2 linked regions of the Homo sapiens genome follow. The gene in region 1 interacts genetically with each later gene. Each region holds a gene or a part of one and is shown on either strand. Other genes may lie near its edges.

Region 1 (3,500 bases):
AGGCAGGAAACCAGTTTTCATTTTTTTTCATATCAAACACTTGTCCCAGGTTCATGTATTTATAGGACCTTTCCCCTACTGATATAATGCGAGCCATCATAAATCAAGTTTACTTATACATATAGGCATACGTTTATTTCTTGGCTCTTTTCTCAGTCCCATTGACCTATTTGTCTATTCCTGTGCTGATACTACCTGTCTTGATAATTATAGCCATAACTTTGTTATAAATCTTACTATTTTCTGACTGTTGTTTATGTACAGAAACATGATGCTTAATGATTTTGTATCTAAATTACCTTATTAATTTAAATAATTTACTTTGCAGATTTTGGGGACTTTGCTGCATAGCCATTCATATCATCTGCAAATGGTGACAGTCTAGTTTCTCCCTGTCTAATCCTTTTTTTTGAGAAAGGGTCTTGCTCTGTCACCCAGGCTGGAGTGCAGTGGCGCAATCTCTGCTCACTGCAACCTCCACCTCCCGAAATCAAGTGATTCTCCTGCCTCAGCCTCCCGAGTAGCTGGGATTACTGGTGTGCACCACCATGCCCGGCTAATTTTTATATTTTTTTTAGAGATGGGGTTTTGCCATGTTAGCCAAGTGATCCTTGAGAGCCTCGGCCTCTCAAAGTCCTGGGATTACAGGCGAGAGCCACCGTGCCCCCCACCACCCTCCCTGTCTAATCCTTATATCTTTTTTCTTTCTTTGCTCAGATTTCCAGCACCATGTTGACTAGAAGTGTTGACAGCAAGCATACTTATCTTGTTTATGATTATAAAGGGAATGCATTTCTTTTTATCATTAAGGTGTGATATTGCAGTCATTTAGATAAAATTGCTACATTTTTTTTTAAGTCACCATCTCCTAATAACTTCTAAGGCATGTTTTATAAACGAATCCTCAGGGAAGAGTTCTAGCTATCTCCCAAATAATTCTGTTCTTTTAAACCAAAAAATCTCCGTCTTATGTTTTTGTTAAAACTCTTTATTTTGGATTTACATTTACTTACAGGATTTAATGATCCATAACTGTGGGTCTTCAGAGTCCAAGCCTTTGTGAAATAAAATTTCATGGAACATGAAAAAAAAAATATGGTATTAGCTACAGTTATACCCTTTTTGGGTTAAGGAAGTCTGTTTCTATGTAGAGTTTTGGGATTTTGTTTTGTTTTTGTTTATGTATTTGTATTTGTTTTTTAATGATGAATAAATCTTGAAGTTTACTTAATTGATTTTTCTTTGTCTTACTGAGGTGTTCTTCGTCTTACTGAGGTGTTTATCATTTTCTGCTTTAATCTGTTGAGGTGGTAAATTACAGATTTTTCTGATAGTGAATCACTTGCATTCCTAGAAAATATTCCAAAGGATCATAGTGATTATATTTTTAAATATAATGTTGTATTTGTTGTGCTTATATTTTGTTTAGAAATTGGCCTGTAATTTTCTTCTATTATACACTGAAACCCCTGCCTCCCGGGTTCAAGTTATTCTTCTGCCTCAGCCTCCGGAGTAGCTGGGATTACAGGCACACGCCACCACTCCCAGCTAATTTTTGTATTTTTAGTAGAGACAGGGTTTCACCATATTGGCCAGGCTGATCTCAAACTTCTGACCTCGTGATATGCCTGCCTTGGCCTCCCAAAGTGCTGGCATTACAGGTGTGAGCCACCGCGCCCAGCCTTCCCTGGTTTTAATATTAAGGTTATTCTAGCCTCATATAATGTACTGGGGATTCTACTCACTCTTTTCCCTTCTTTGTTAGATTTTGTTTAAGATTGGAATTATTTGTTCCTTGAGGGTTTGTTACAACTCACCTGCAAAACTGTCTAGACCTGTTCTTCTCTTCGAGGGAAGACTTTAAATTACTTGTTTAACTTCTATAATGGTTATTATTATATTTATCAGGTTTCCTCTTAAGTCAGTTTTGGTAAGTTAACTTTTTCTGGAAAGGTTTCCATTTTGTATTGTTTCAATATATAGGCATAAAGTTTCTGGTATTTTTTTAAAATTTTCTGCTCTCCATATAATATGTACTCTCTTTTTCTCATATTATCTATTTTGCTTTCTCTTGTTTTTTTATAGTAGCCTTACCAAAGCTTTTACAACACTTTCAGTCTTTTTTTGTCTTTTTTTTTTTTTTTTTTTTTTTTTTTTGAGACAAAGTCTTGCTCTGTCGCCCAGGCTGGAGCGCAGTGGTGCGATCTTGGCTCACTGCAACCTCCACCTCCCGGGTTCTAGTGATTCTCCTGCCTCAGCCTCATAGCTGGAATTACAGGCGTGCACCACCATGTCTGGCTAATTTTTGTGTTTTTAGTAGAGACGAGGTTTCACCATGTTGGCCAGGCTGGAACACTTTCAGTCTTTTCAGAGCACCAACCTTTGTTTATTGTTGATCTTCTTTGTTATAAGTTATGCAAAGGATATTTATTGTACAACATGGTGACTATAGTTAATATCAGTGTATTGTATACTTGAAAATTGCTGAAAGTAGATTTTAAATTTTCTCATCACAAATAATAGATATGTGAGTTAAGGCATATATTAGCTTGATTTAGCTATTTCACAATATATACATATTTGAAAACATGCTGTACACCATAAATGTATATAATATTTATCAATTAAAAAATGAAGACTATATTGAAAGTTATTTTTACATTGTAAATTATGTTTTTATTCATTTTTTTCTTATTATCTTATTTTTCCATTTTCCGTGGTTTTTTTTTTAAACATGCAAATGGTGCATCTCACATAAACAGCATATGGCTTGTTTCCGGTTTGTTTGTATGGGGGTTTTTGTTGTTTTGCAGACTAATAGTCTCTTTACCCTTATAATTACTGATAAAATTACATTCCTCTGTTCAGACTCGTGGGTCTGTGTGTGTGTGCACATGCATGCACAGGTATGTGTGTTTTGGGTGGGATTTTGATTTTGATAAAACCTATAAAGATTTTGATTTTGATAAACATAAAGACTTTTGTATAGTCAGTATGTTAAAGCATTTTCTCTGTATTCTTATCTCCCACTTTACTTCTGGGAACACTTTTTTCTTTTTTCTGAGAGACAGAGTCTTGTCCTGTCACCAGGATAGAGAGCAGTAGTGCAGTCATAGCTCATTACACCCTTGATCTCCAGGACACAAGCCATACTCCCGCCTCAGCCTTCTGCCAAGTAGCTAAGACTATAGGCACCACCGTCATGCAGTCATGCCCAGCTAATCTTTCATTATTTTTATTCATTTGTCTCTATGCGTTTTTCTGTATAATTTCTTTGCAACTTTATTCCAGATTATAAATTCTCTTTTCAATTGTATTTATTCTGCTATTTGGCCTTTTTTTTTTTTTTTTTGAGACGGAATCTCACTCTGTCGCCCAGGCTGGAGTGCAGTGGCACAGTCTTGGCTCACTGCAAACTCTGCCTCCTGGGTTCAAGTGATTCTCCTGCCTCAGCCTCCTGAGTAGCTGGGATTACAGGCACCCTCCACCACACCCAGCTA
Region 2 (3,500 bases), on another chromosome or scaffold:
CTCAAACCCCTGACCTCAGATGACCCACCTGCCTCAGCCTCCCAAAGTGCTGGGATTACAGGTGTGAGCCACAGTGCCTGGCCTCAAGTATATATTTTTAACTATAGTCACCATATAGTATAATAGATCTCCTGCACTTATTCCTGCTGTCTAACTGAAATTTTGTATCCTTTGGCCAAAATCTTCCAATTCTTTCTCTCTCATCCCCTGGTAACCACCATTCTGCTACTTCTACAAGCTTGACTTTTTTAGATGCCACACATAAGTGAGATTAAGCAGTATTTGTTTTTCTGTGCCTGGCTTATTTCACTTAGCATAATGTCCTCCAGGTCCATCTATGTTGCTGCAAATGACAGGATTTCCTTATTTTTTAAGGCTGAACAGTATTCCATTGTGTGTGTGTCTGTGTGTGTGTGTGTGTGTGTATCTATATCTCACATTTTCTTTATTCATTCATCCATTGGCATACATGTAGGCTGTTTCCATGTCTTGGCTATGGTGAATAATGCTGCAATGGATATGGGAGTACAGATACCTTGACATGCAGATATCATTTCCTTTGGATATATACCCAGAAGTGGATTATTGGATCATATGGTAGTTCCATTCAAAAATTTTTAAGGAACCTCCATACTATTTTCCAAAATGGCTGTACTAATTTACATTCCCACTGACAGTGTACAGGGTTTTTCTCCACATCCTTGCCAATGCTTATCTCGCTTTTTGATAATAATCATTCTGACAGGTGTGAGGTGATATCTCATGGTAGTTTTAATTCACATTTCCCTGATGATTAGTGATGTTGAACATTTTTTTCACATACCAGTTAGCTATTTGCATGTCTTTTTCTTTTGTTTTTCTTTTTTTTTTTTTTTTGAGACAGAGTCTTGCTGTTGCCCAGGCTGGAGGGCAATGGTGTGATCTTGGCTCACTGCAACCTCCGCCTCCTGGGTTCAAGTGATTCTCCTGCCTCAGCCTCCTGAGTAGCTGGGAATACAAGCGCCCGCCACCACGCCCAGCTAATTTTTGTTTTTTTAGTAGAGACAGGGTTTCACCAGGTTGGCCCGGCTGGTCTCGAACTCCTGACCTCAGGTGATCCACCCGCCTCGGCCTCCCATGCTACTTGCATGTCTTCTTTTGAGCAATGTCTTTTCAGGCCCTTGTCCACTTATCTGATGTAGGGGTCGTGAATATTTTCTCCCATTCCGTAGGTTGTCTCTTTACCTTTTTTTTTTTTTTTCCAGACGAGGTCTCACTCTGTTGCCCAGGCTGGAGTAAAGTGGCACAATCACGGTCACTACAGCCTCAACTGTCTGAGCTCAAGTGATTCTCCTACCTCAGCCTCCCAAGTAGCTGGGACCACAGGCGTGTGCTATCATGCCCAGCTAATTTTTTGATTTTTTTGTAGAGTTGAACTCTCACTAAGTCACCCAGTTTAGTCTCGAACTCCTGAGCCCAAGCAATCTTCCCACCTAGGACTGTCAAAGTGTTGGGATTACAGGCATGAGCCACCGCACCAGGCCAGAAACTCTACGTTTGATTCTAACCACAGCAGCTTAGCAGCTGAGGACAAACTGTTGGGATATTTTGGTCTCAGTCAATGGCAGCCAGGTTACCAACCCTGACAAGATACAAGTTTTCTTCGTTGGGTTCCTGGTACAAAAGTCAACCTTTTCAGTTACTTATGAATGAAAGGGCATGAAGATTGTGCTATTAGTTTATCCTGAAGGTCAATCTTCAAAAATACTGGTTCAACATGGATTTGGATATTATTAATATAAATTTATGGCTTAAAGAGGACAAAAGGTGTTTTTTTGGGTTCCTTTACAGAGATATTTAGTGAGGGAACAAGGCACTTAGTCATCTTTGCTATGACAGGTTAAATACAAGGTGTACTGGGAACATGTAAGAGGGTGACTTAACTCAGCCATTGGGGGGTCAGGAGAAGTGTTCCTAAGGAAGTGATGTCTAAGTGAGGTAGGCAGTACCTTGGCAAAAAAAACCTTGAAGTTAAGAGTGCATATGAGAAATGAAGGTATGTCCACCTGGCTGGCAAATGGAGTCTAAGATAGGGCAGTGATGATAAAGATATAGGAAGATGCTAGATCTGGAAGGGCCTTCTAAAAAGAATGACAATATAAATTTATTGTACAAATGGAGACTTTACTGAGAGTGAAACCAGGCAATATTAATACTTAGGTAGGGACAACAGATATAAACCAGGCTATTCTCAGCAAATCAGAAATTATGGTCACCCTACTTGTAAGTCACATTCAGGTGCTTAGACTTTCAGTGAAAGCATAGAGTATGTATCTTCTACATTTTGCCTAAGTGACTTCATTCTTTTTTTTTTTGAGACAGAGTCTCGCTCTGTTGCCCAGGCTGGAGTACAGCGGCACGATCTCAGCTCACTGCAAGCTCCACCTCCCAGGTTCACGCCATTCTTCTTCCTCAGCCTCCTGAGTAGCTGGGACTACAGGCGCCCACCACCACGCCCGGCTAATTTTTTGTATTTTTAGTTGAGATGGGGTTTCACCATGTTAGCCAGGATGGTCTCGATCTCCTGACCTCGTGATCCGCCCGCCTCAGCCTCCCAAAGTGCTGGGATTACAGGCGTGAGCCACTGCACCCAGCCAGTGACTTCATTTTTACTTTTGCCTTTACTTACTCATTTCACAAGTATTTGAGGATACACTTCAGAGCACTGAGGTTACAAAGACAACAGTGTCTGTCCTCAAGGTCTGTCTAGGTAAGACACACAGCCAAATAAACAATTCTAATACAGTTATACAGTTTTAGTTCTGACACCTCCAATGAGCTGTAGACTTGTATTTGTCATTTCCAGTCAGAATGCAAAACACAGATCCAAAACAGAACTTTCAATTTCTCCTCCAAATCTATTCTTCCTTCAGCTGGTCGTGTAAGTGATGCCACTATCACATCCACTTAAGACAAAAACCCAGAGGAGTACTGCCTTAATCAGTAATCAGTGTTACCCTTCTTCTCACTGTGCATGTTAATTTTGCCACATCTTTTTTTTTTTTTTTTTTTTTGGTACAGTGTCTCACTCTGTCACCTAGGCTGGAGTGCAGTGGTGTGATACTGGGTCAATGCAGCCTCAACCCTCTGGGCTGAAGTGATCCTCTCACCTCAGCCTCCTAAGTAGCTGGGACTACAGGCATGCGCCACTACACCTGGCTAATTTTTGCAATTTTTGTAGAGACGAAGTTTCACCATGTTGCCCAGTTCTCATGCCTCCTTGAACTCCTGAACTCAAGTGATCTGCCTACCTTGGCTTCCCAAAATGCAGGGATCCCAGGTGTGAGGCACCGTGTCCTGCCCTCTCCACATCTTTCTTAAGCACACTGACTAAATTGGTCTAAGTAGAGCCTAACATCAACTGAAGGGAGAGGGTAATTTCCAGGTAGTTGAATGCTATGATTTTTGTTTTTTTGTTTTTGAGACAGACTCTTGCTCTGTTGAACAGGCTGGAGGGCAGT

The links.
Region 2: changes in SDHAF4 (region 1) and ACACA together harm fitness more than expected from each alone (negative genetic interaction), as found in Homo sapiens cells (one large-scale study listed by BioGRID).

Annotation. Positions count from the first base shown.
Region 1 is NC_000006.12:70,569,930-70,573,429, forward strand, and holds part of SDHAF4 (succinate dehydrogenase assembly factor 4, mitochondrial precursor), read left to right. Parts: intron 1-3,500. UniProt on the Homo sapiens protein: Plays an essential role in the assembly of succinate dehydrogenase (SDH), an enzyme complex (also referred to as respiratory complex II) that is a component of both the tricarboxylic acid (TCA) cycle and the mitochondrial electron transport chain, and which couples the oxidation of succinate to fumarate with the reduction of ubiquinone (coenzyme Q) to ubiquinol.
Region 2 is NC_000017.11:37,400,337-37,403,836, forward strand, and holds part of ACACA (acetyl-CoA carboxylase 1), read right to left. Parts: intron 1-3,500. UniProt on the Homo sapiens protein: Cytosolic enzyme that catalyzes the carboxylation of acetyl-CoA to malonyl-CoA, the first and rate-limiting step of de novo fatty acid biosynthesis.